2 separate regions of the Homo sapiens genome follow, and region 1 is linked to region 2. Evidence: fine-mapped expression QTL. A gene starts in region 2. The other region holds a variant in brackets. All regions are shown on one strand. Distances are from middle to middle.

Region 1 (5,378 bases), 37 kb after region 2:
TACAGGTGTGAACCACTGTGCCTGGCCCACCTGGCTAATTTTTAAATTTTTTGTGGAGATGGGGTCTCGCTATGTTGACCAGGCTGGTCTCAAACTCCTGGCCTCAAGTGATCCTCCCACCTTGGCCTCCCAAAGTGCTGGGATTACAGGTGTGAGCTACCATACCAGGCCCACTCTAGCAAATTAACTGAACCCTAAGAGGAGGCTGTGGAAACCGAAACTTGAAGCCAGTCAGCCAGCTGTTCCAGAGGCCTGGACATGCAACTGGTGCAAAGGAAGGGGCACTCTTTTGGGACTGCGCCCTCACCCTGTGGTGTCTGAGGCTGACTCTAAGTAGATAGTGTTGGAATTGAATTGAATCAGCGGACAACCAGCTAGTGTCGGCTGCAGAATTGATTGCTTGCTTGGTGGTGGGGAGAAACCCCCACGCATTTGGTCACAGAAGTCTTCTGTGTTGATTGTTGTGTTGAGTGAGAGAACAGGAGAAAGCACATTGTTGCTTTTTCCACACTCATGGGTAAGCATTAGTATCCTCATTTCAGAGATGAAGAAACAGAAAAGGGGGTAAGTTACTTGCTCAGGTAGTGGTAGAGTCAGGTTCTGAATGCTGGTCATTGATTGACCATTCCATAGCCTTGTAGTACTGACTATAAAACATCTAACAGGTACAAAGCAAATGTTCAATAAATGCTCATTTTTATTTTTGTTTTTCACTTTTCCCATTCTCTCAGGCACGAAGTAGAGAACGAAGCTGAACATACATTTTGCAGGCACCGCACCTAAGGCGATGATTCCTTTATTCCTGACCCCTAAGGCACAAAGGGCACTTCTTGTTTATTCCTGGTTCATTAATACTGCCTCTGCAGAATAGGCTGCAGTGTCAACATCTTTAATGGAATAAAAGGCAGACTCCCGCTAAGTGATTTTAATGTGCATCAAAGTTTGAAAACCACTGCCTTGCTGGGCGCGGTGGCTCACACCTGTAATCCCAACACTTTGGGAGGCCGAGGCAGGCGGATCAGGAGGTCACGAGATTGAGGCCATCCAGGCTAACACGGTGAAACCCCATGTCAACTAAAAATAAGAAAAATTAGCCAGGCATGGTGGCGGGTGCCTGTAGTCCCAACTACTTGGGAGGCCGAAGCAGGAGAATGGCGTGAACCCTGGAGGCGGAGCTCGCAGTGAGCGGAGACCGTGCCACTGCACTCCAGCCTGGGCGACAGAGCGAGACTCTGTCTCAAAAAAAAAAAAAAGTGCAGACTCCCAAAGACAGATGTGAAGAGGTCCAGTGATTTGAATGGACAAACAGGCAAATATTTTGCTTTCTTTTGAAAAGGAAAAATTGTTATCTTTATGACACGGCTATTACTGTGTGCAGTGGGAAAACCAGCATGGTGCAAAGGAAAGGCCCTTTGGTCTAATGCCAACTCTGCCCTAGCTGGGGGTTAGGAGACATAAGCCAGTAGCCATCTTGCTAACCTTAAAAGAAGTTTTAAGGTTGTAAGGCTCAAAGGAGAGAAGGGCTGTGATTCGCTTTTTAAAAGCATATTTTTTTAAGGCTACATAAGATTTTCTCATTATCCTCACTATCACATCACATGGACCTCCCTTTCCTGGGTTTGGGAAGGGGATTCAGGTCACCCAGTCCCTTACCAAACAAAGGGTGGCAACAATGGTTAAGAAAGGTCAGAACTAATAGTAATTCTCCCTGCTTATACAGCTGCAGCCACTGCATGACCCTAGGACCCAGATCCCCCACAGGCTTTGAGAAGATGACCCCAAGTCAAGCCGAGCGCATATGAGAGCAGTGGAGAAAGAGCTCTGTTTCTGTCTTCAAGAGGGCATACTGCATATTTCCCAGAGACAAAAGGGAGCATCGAACCCAATGCCAGTTTGCTAACAGAGCCTTCCATATGCAAGCACCAGAGTTCTATGCTTCACCAGGTTGGTCATTTCTGGAATGGGAACATTGAATTGCAAGATGTTGTTGATTATGACCAGGAGTCTGATTCATATGCTAATCAGTGAAAACAGTAACAAATACTCCAAATTGATGTACCATACAATTTATCATGGCTTTGGGATGTATTTTGGCACACAGTGTACTACAGTGATTCTAAGATGAACATTTTAATTTTAAAGTCTTTGCAGTCATTGATGGCATGTTGTAATTTAATGGCACATAAAACAATGGTGCATTTTTAATCAATGACAGATTCGATGAAATATGGTTCATGTAGATTTTAATGTAACTGACAGCCTGGAAATTCAAATCATTTTGAACCAAATAAAGTATGCATGAACATCGATAATTATTGCCATCATCACTCAACTTAGAAGACCTAAGCTACCAGGGTGCTGAAAATACCTCTTTCTCCCTCTGTGCTGTATCTCAGCGGTTTGCAAACTTGGCTGCACGCTGGAATAACCTGGGGAGTTGAAAAAATACTGATGCCAGAGCTGTGTCCCCAGAATTTCTGATTTAGTGGTGCTGCAGTGCAGCCTGGGCAGTGGGATATTTAAGAAGTTCCCCAGGTGATTTGGATGCACTTTAAAGTTTGAGAAGCATTACTTGTTTCTTAGGAAGGCATCACTTTGCAACTGCTCTGGCCAGATACCTGGGAATCGTGTCAGAATCCTCCTTCTCCACATGGCTCTTGAGTTCCTCCCTTCCTTTTTATCTCCTCTGTTGTCCCCTGGTTTACAGCCCCATATTTCTGCTCCAGATCTCTCTGTCTTACCTCCTTATCTCTCTGCTGCCTTCTGGGGTCTTATTTTTTCAATCTGTAGTCACACTGCTGCCAGATGGATTTCTCAGCTCTTAACCTAATTAGGCCCCAATTTAGGCTCCCTTGGCTAAAACCAACCTTCTCTGAAGAGTACATAAATGTCTTCCTGGCATGGCTACTGCCCACTTCCCAACCCTATATGCTGCTCTTCTCCACAAACATCCACTGTTCCTGG[G/A]GACATGAATGGCTCCAGTTCCCAGAACCACCCCTCTGTTTTGTCCCTTTATGTCTTGGTACCTAGTGTTCGCTCTGCCTCCATCTCTCCTCACTCGGCAGATTCATCCTTAACTTTCCAGAGAAGACTTGTGGCCCTTCTCTCAACTGTCTCTGTCCTAGTATGAAGATCCATCCCATCTTCTCACCTCCTTGGCAGTAACACACCTATCCATGACATCACTGAGCAGGGCCAACCATAGCTCTAATGACGCTGTGCATTCCTTGGGCGGGACATCTCTGGCACTTAGAACAGGGCCTGGTTCTGTGTTTTGCTTTATGTAAGCGAGTGACTGCTTTTGTGACTGCAGGGTGCACAAAATTTGTGCTCAGAAAATGCCTTTGTTTAAAATACTCCAAGAAAGGGGGGCTAGATAAAACAAGACTGGCAACATTTGATAATTATTGAAGATGGGTGCTGGAGACACAGGGATCCATTATGCTATTCGTTCTACGTTTGCTTGACATTTTTCCTAATAAAACGTAAAAGAAAAGAAAACGCCTTTGCTTGAAAGGCTAATTTGAATAATAAGAGAAATGGAGGTTCTGTTCCCCTCTGTATCTGACAGGTGACTTCAGTCTTTTTTGGGCTCTGCGGGGAGACTTTAGCACAGTCAATTTGACTGTGGGAATTTTTATATAACAAGAGCCCCTGACAAATGGGTGAAGTTTGCAATGTACAACCACACTTGGTCCTACCTTCTTTATTTCCCTTTTTGTCATGTTTCTTCAACCATTCAATATTTTTTCTGATGGCTTCCAAATAGGCTTCTGTTTTTCCTGGAAGAGGTAAGAGAACTATATCAAACACTCAGGAAATATCACTACATCTCATTTTAAAGACCACACGTATGTTCAGAACCACAAATATTAGACTTATGCAGCATTTGCAAGGTTGTTTCCCTAACTAGGTAATGTACATATTTGTATGTGTCTATGTGTGTTTGTGTGTTGAGGGGTTTAGGTCAAGGAGAGCAGGTGCGGATGAGGTTCCAGGAGGAAGAATCAAGTTGGTAAGTGTCAAGGGGCATGATTCCCACACACAAATAAATCCACCTTGATGTCCTGGCAGAGAAGAGTTTTGATTCAGTTTACTAGATAGATGGGTCCTTAGATTAGTTCATTTCTGGTTAGGGATGGTTCTTCCAAACTGAGGAGCATCATCAAGCCAAGGACTTGAATGAGAGTGGCAGATACTTAAAGATTCCATCACTTCAGTTAAAAGTCCAAATGTGTGGCTTTGTGTAAGCAGCTCTAAGTCTTCTGCCCAATTCTGGCAGGGGGCGGGCAAAAACTTAGACAAAGAGGCGACCAGTGCCTCACTTCAAGGTTTGGATGGCAAACCTTAGAACTGGCTCTAATAAAACTCCCCAGGATGTAAACACTGTTCGATGGGCCTCAAGTGTGGCATGAGAATACCAGGCATCACTCATGCACCTACTCTGTGATGCCCTTTACCTGTACTGATGTCTGCAAGCGGATATTACCATCCACTGAGAGATGAGGAATCTGGGGCTCAGAGAGGCGAAGTGAGTAGGCTAAGGCTACACAGGAAATAACAGCTGGCATTTGGACTCTGATCTGCTTAGCTTCCGCTACCTGCATTCCCTGCAGGATAAGACCTCACCTTCAGACATGGACAGTAATGTTGCTTTGTTCTATATCAAAAAAATCAGCCACTCTCTTAACCAGGTGAGGCCCTAAAGCTTAGGGAGTCAGCACCAAGAAACCAGGTGCTCTAGAAAGTACCAGATGGCTTACAAAAAGAGGCTTTCAAAGTCCAGGGCCTCTGCAGAAGCAATAGCTGCAGAGCTCAGTGTGGTGACCACCCCATTCTGAGCCCCATCTGAGCCCTCTTACCTCTACTCTACTGCACAGCCCTCTTGGTTGAGCTACCTGTACTGTGTGCTTATCATGTACTGGGGACTGCTTTATGCTCCAAAATGCATTGTCTCATTTATTCTTCACGACAACTTTTTGAGGCAGTCTTATTATCATCCCCATTTTACAGATGAAGACACTGAAGCACAGAGACATAAAGTCATAATCACATGACTAACAAGTAGCAGAGCCAGGCTTGAACCTGGGTACCTCCAACTACAGTCCATGTACAATAACACTGCCCTAAGAGTTGCCCATGTTCCAATTGCCCGCACTGTATTTACCTAAGTGACTCTCTGAGCATCTTTCTTCCTGATCTTGAAGCCCACTCTTGCCTTACCACCGAAGATCTGTGTCATCTGGTCCCCAAAGAAGCACAGAGACTACTACACAAAAAGGGGTAAATGGACACCAGAAGAGATCCACAATTTTTAGTCCTTATTTACTTCAATAGTTGGTGTAGAAACTTCCTTGATTTCAGCAGTCTGGGAGGCC
Region 2 (5,378 bases):
CCAATATCCACATCTCCAAAGAATAAGGATTGTCTGGTCTAGGTAACCACAAGAATGAACTATTATTGCACCTAAGAAAATTAACACCAATTCCATAATATCATCTAACATGCAATCCATATTCAAACATCCCCAACTATCTCCAAATTGTCTTTTATAGCTTTTTTTTTTGCATCTAGGATTCAAAGTTCACACATCCCAATTCACTATTGTATCACTTGAGTATTTTAACCTACAATAGTTGCTCCCATTTGCTCTGCCCCATCGCCAAGTCTTTTTGCAGGAACACTACAGAGGTGAAATTATGCCTCCTTATTGCTTCACAACGGGAGACTCGCAGTAGATGCTGCTAAACTTGGTCATTTGGTTCCAGTGGTGACCTCCTAATTTCTCCATTGTAAGGACAAATTTTCCCAGAGTAAACTGTGGTGAGATACTTTGAAATAATATGAAAATCCTATTCCCCAACCACCTTTCACTCAAAGGTTTTGGACCAGTTGGTAAGTCCTTGCCTTATTCAACTGTTATGTTAGGTTTGCAGAGCGCCGAGTTCCTGATTCTCTCATTCCTTCTATTGCATATTTCTTTTTCAAACAATGATCCATCAGTACGCAACTTCTCTTTTCTGTGTATACACATTCTGGTTACTTCTTGCTGGGGCTTCCTCCCCGACCTCCATGCTGACCACATTTGACCACTCGTGCCCAGCCCTAGGGAGCCACTAATCCTTTATCTGCTGATCCCATCACTTCACCTTCAGCAAATTAAAGACAAAAACAAACCCCATCATTTTGTTGCCCACCAATGTACAGTACCTTACAAAAATTAAAATGATTGCAATGCGTATTTATTGGGTTAGACTGAAGAGAGTCGATCGAGAAAATCAGTTTTATCTTTAAAAAAAAATCAGATTGCTGAAGCTCTGAAAAATCTTTCCTCCTCACTAGGGTAGAGGCGCTTGTTGTCACAATTAGGCTTTTTGTAGTGCTGTTAAACAGAAACACTCTCATCTTTTCAGTTCCCTGAGAGGGGAGAATCTTGGAAGAACAGAGGTTTACAAATCATTTAGCCCAAACGCCCCTTTACATGCAGAGGCCCAGAGAGGTGGAGGGACTTGCCCAGGTCCCTCAGCTCCTGAATGGTCAAGCTAAGAGGAGAACCTGGTTTTTAAAACACCTCCCCCGATCTTCTTTTCATTCCCGTCCTAAATGCCTCGTGATTCAGATATGTAATGGGCACAGACGAAGCTGCAGTAAGCACGGCCTCCTTCACTGCTAATTTGCATTGTGACGGCATCACCTTCCTACCTCTGAATACTCTAAAAATTCCCATTAGAAGCCTTTTATTACTGTTTTAAAAATCCACCTTCATTTCCGCAGGTCAACAGGGAACATTTAGGAAGCCTCAAGGGAGCACATACTACAATTACTTTAACCAGAAAAGTAATAACAATAATAATAAGGTTCTCGAGGATCCGCACGAGGCCGCTTACTGGGAGGCTGAAACGCCCTGCGAGTGACAGCTCCAGCGATCTCAGGAAAGACGCCGGCCAGTCCACCCCTCCCCATCGCCTGCTGAACGAGGCAGGGAGATGCATACCGCTCCAGGAGCTCACCAAACATGCACAGGAAGGGGAAAAGTGGGGGAACAAAGCCCGGAGTGGAAGAACACAGCCCCGCAGCCCGGGAGGACAGGAGACCGCGCCCTCCCCGCTGCGGCCCAGCGGGCTGCAGAGGCTGCGGCACCGCAGTGCGGGGCGCGGGACTCACACCCCGGCGGGCGCCTCCCGCCCGGGCGCAGCGCCTGGTCTCCCGGCGCAGCCGACCGGGCCGGGAGGCGAGAGGCGAGAGGCGGCCCGGCTCTGCACGCCCGCCCGGCCGACCGCCCATGTCGCGGAGCATCCTCCCGCGGGCAGGGAGGGCACGGCGGCCACCGCGCTGCGGGCCCGGGGGCTGCAGACACCGGCTGTCCAGAACAGGCCCCACCCGCCCCCCGGGGCGCTCACCCGTCCGTGCGCTCATCCCGGAGCCGGCTGTGCTGGCCGTCAGTCCGTCAGCCCCGGTGGAGCGGGGCCGGGAGAACAGGGGCGGCGCCGTGGCCGGGGCGAGCGCGGCGATCAACAGGCGGCTCCCGGCCGGGCGCGGCGCCGGGGCGCGCGGCTGCAGCGGAGCAGGCTGGGAAGCGTAGTTCCCGGCTGAGCCTCGCCGCGGCCCCGCAGTCCCCCAGCCCCGCCCTTCCCCGACAGGTGTCCTCTCCCGGAATCGGGGTCTGAACCCCGCCACAGCTCTGCAGGGGAGGAAGCACCTGGGTCGGGGAGAAGCCTGGGCAGGCTCTTTGGAGACGCTCGGGGCTCCGGAGAGCGTGGATGGCAAAGGCTTTCAAGCCTGTGATGAGCATTCCTGTGAGCGAGCATCCTGACACGGAAGCCGCGTTGAGAGCGGTCTCAGGTACAGACCCCGCCCGCCCCAGGTTTTCCTGGCTGGGCGTGGGCGTGGGAGGAGAGAGTAGTTGGGTTGGCAGCCTAGGGAGGGAAGGAGGTAAGCGAGGTGGAAGTTAGCAAGGCTCTAGGGTGATGGCGTGAGGGGCTGGAGAGCCCAAGCGCAGTGGCGGCTTCACTGAGGTGAGACCGGACAACTTAGCCTGTCTGAGCCTTCGCGTCCTCATCTGTAAAACAGGCTTCAAGCTTGAAAAAGTGTTGTGAGGATTAAGCGACCCATAGCACTTAGGATCTGGCACTTAGTGCATACTCAGTGAAAGTTCCTTCCTTGGGGTTTCCGAGGGAGTTCTTGGGCCGGGAAAGTCCTATATGTCGTGCTAACCTAAAGATAGTTGGACCTCGTTGGGCTGGGTAAATGTTAAAATCCACTGGGTTTGTTAGTCGTTGAGCCCGTTCACTTCATCCCTGAATATACCCTGAGATGTTCTGTCTGCCAGGTTCTTGAGAGCTCCAAAGATAGAGAAAATAAAGTCAAGTTTCTGAAGCATGACAGCAGAGTGGGGTGACATAGGACAAAGACCAACATTATGAAAATACATGGCATCTAGATTTAACTTCCAGAGGCCTTTTCTAATTAGATGTGATATCTCTCTCCTTCTTGAACTTTTGCAGCATATTTTGAGCATAACCTTTGCTTATGGGACTTATCTTGGCAGTCTAAGGTTCGTTGAGTTTTGCAAGTTGCTGCTATGCAGTGTTTCACATGATGGTGGGATTTGCATTCACAGATGTAGTGGAGGAAAATGAACCAAAGGGATGGATGCAGCATGGCTGGTGTAATCTCTATATGAAATTTTAGGCAAAATGTGAAAAGAGGTGAAACAGCTTTATAGTCTGTCTGGCACGAGGTGTGCAGTAATCGTGTGGCCAAAAAAACGTGCTGCAGAGGAAATTCCACATCTGAAAATGATAACACTGGTTTGCATTTATGAAAATACTTTCCTATTTGTGTTCTCATTTGATTTTTACAAGAACCCTTGTGAGACAGGCAGAGTGAAGGTATTTTTCCCCAATGATAGTTAATAAGAGGCACAGAGAGGTGATGTGACTTATTCAAGGTCATAGGGGTGTTCAGTAAGCCTGTCTTCTCTCCTTCCACTGTGGGCACCCCCAGCACTGTCTCCCTTTTGCACATTGCAAAATAGGGCCATACCTTCCCCAGCAGATGGGTTGAACCAGAAAGTAAAGTTAATCCTCTAAAACTCTGGGAACTAGCATGATGAACACTGGCACGCAGTGGCTGCTGACTGAGAGACCAGTGTTGTTTCTATGATCAATTGTGGTAATGGACTATATCTTGGGCCTCCTGTCAGAATGACAAATCTGAGCCAGAAAGAGTTAAATGAAATGGGGGTGTGACCAAATTACTTTAAGTCATGTTCCCAAGTTTTCCTGTACATTTGTTATTCCGAATGTCCTGTGTAACCGACAGGATGCCTTTGACTTTTTTATGTTGTACATTTGTTACAGTCATAGCCTTCTGTTAAATAAGAACAGGGCTGCTTACGGATCGAGCCAGCAGTTTTCCCAGAGAAAGCTGATAGTAGGCATATGCTGAAAATAATAAAGCAATTTCATTCATATTGGAAGAAAGAGTAGCAAAGGTGCTCAGTAGTGTACAGTATTTCTCTTTGGTTTCCCGTGGTTCTGCACGAGGAAAATGGCTGCATGTGATAAAACGAATAGAGTATTCCTTCAGAAACTAGCCATGAAAGGAAGCAGACAGGGGAATGATTTAAGTTAAAGTCATGTTCGGCAGTCGAAGCAGAGATACAAGAGCTATCCTACAGCCCCAGAGCCATGCTCCAGGAGGATGCTGACACCAAAATAAAGTGAGTTGTGAAAAGAAACTTCTGATCAGTCTCTGTCTGTATGATGAGTGTTGGAAGCTGGAAGGTGTTAAAGGATGAGTGAGGGAAGTAGAACATTTAACCTAATGTTAAAACTTAATGGAAAGATATTACCAGTTCCAGTCTGTTTAGCTCTTTAAATCTATTGCCTATGTCTTATCTTAAGGAAGAAAGGATGTCAATATGCCTATGACTTATCAGTTGAAACCCATGATCATTTCTGGACCATATCTTGTAAGTTTAACTTTTCTACTTGCTTTTTAGAAGATGAAAATGTAAAATTGAAACAGAACTCCTGGAGCTGGAAGGGACCTTACATATCATTTTGTGTAGCCATTTCTTCCTGTAAATGAGGAAGCTGATATATTGACTGTAATTGTCAAATGGCAGAAAGGAAAAAAGTTCAACGTGGCAGTTATAATGAAGTATTTTAATTATTCACAGTGGAATATGTAGCACACCTCATTAGGAACAGGTAGTAGACACTGTTGGTTGTCTATTAAACATTCAGTCCACCCTCTTCTTCTTTATAGAAGCCTATATGGGTGTTTACACATTAGGAAAGGTGACCCTATTAGCCTCTGAGAGGTACACTCTCAAATCTATCATAGACAAGAGGAATAGAATCCTCTTAACTGGCCTGTAAGAGTTTAGGAGTGGACATGTGACCCAGTTCTGGCCATTGTAAAGAGATACGATGAATCTGGGTCGGCCATATTGTTGTTGAGTCAGTCATCAACCAGCCCCAGTGCTGCCCTTCTTCTGGATTTCTTGTTATATGAGATAATAAATAACCTTATTGTTGAGTCAATTTGAGATGGAGTTTTCTGTTACTTGAAGCTGAAAGCATCCTAAGTGTTAAAGATGAAATGTGAAAGTACATTCTTTGGATGGACTGAAAGACTGCTTCCTAGAGTTGATTAAAAACAACCACCACAAACCACAGGCAATGTGATGGGATATTATCATATAACAGATAACAACATGGGTTTTAACATCAGAGAGTTTGAACCCAGATATTTACTGGCACA

Evidence for each region. PIP is the estimated chance that this variant, and not a neighbour inherited with it, causes the effect.
Region 1: its variant is the best candidate, but not a certain one, in a credible set for the expression of TMOD2 in whole blood (TOPMed, PIP 0.73).

Annotation. Positions count from the first base shown.
Region 1 is chr15:51,711,737-51,717,114 of GRCh38, reverse strand. It overlaps SCG3 (secretogranin III), which reads right to left. Exons shown (of 12, transcript NM_013243.4): 11 at 3,702-3,782. Among named protein-coding and RNA genes, the nearest start is that of LYSMD2, 23 kb to the left of the region's middle. The variant G/A (reference allele first, on the strand shown) is at 2,965.
Region 2 is chr15:51,748,340-51,753,717 of GRCh38, reverse strand. It overlaps TMOD2 (tropomodulin 2), which reads right to left and starts at 2,121. Exons shown (of 10, transcript NM_014548.4): 1 at 2,006-2,121. It also overlaps a transcript of LYSMD2 not described here. RefSeq lists silencers at 1,708-1,767, 1,798-1,907, 1,958-2,387 and an enhancer at 2,498-2,567.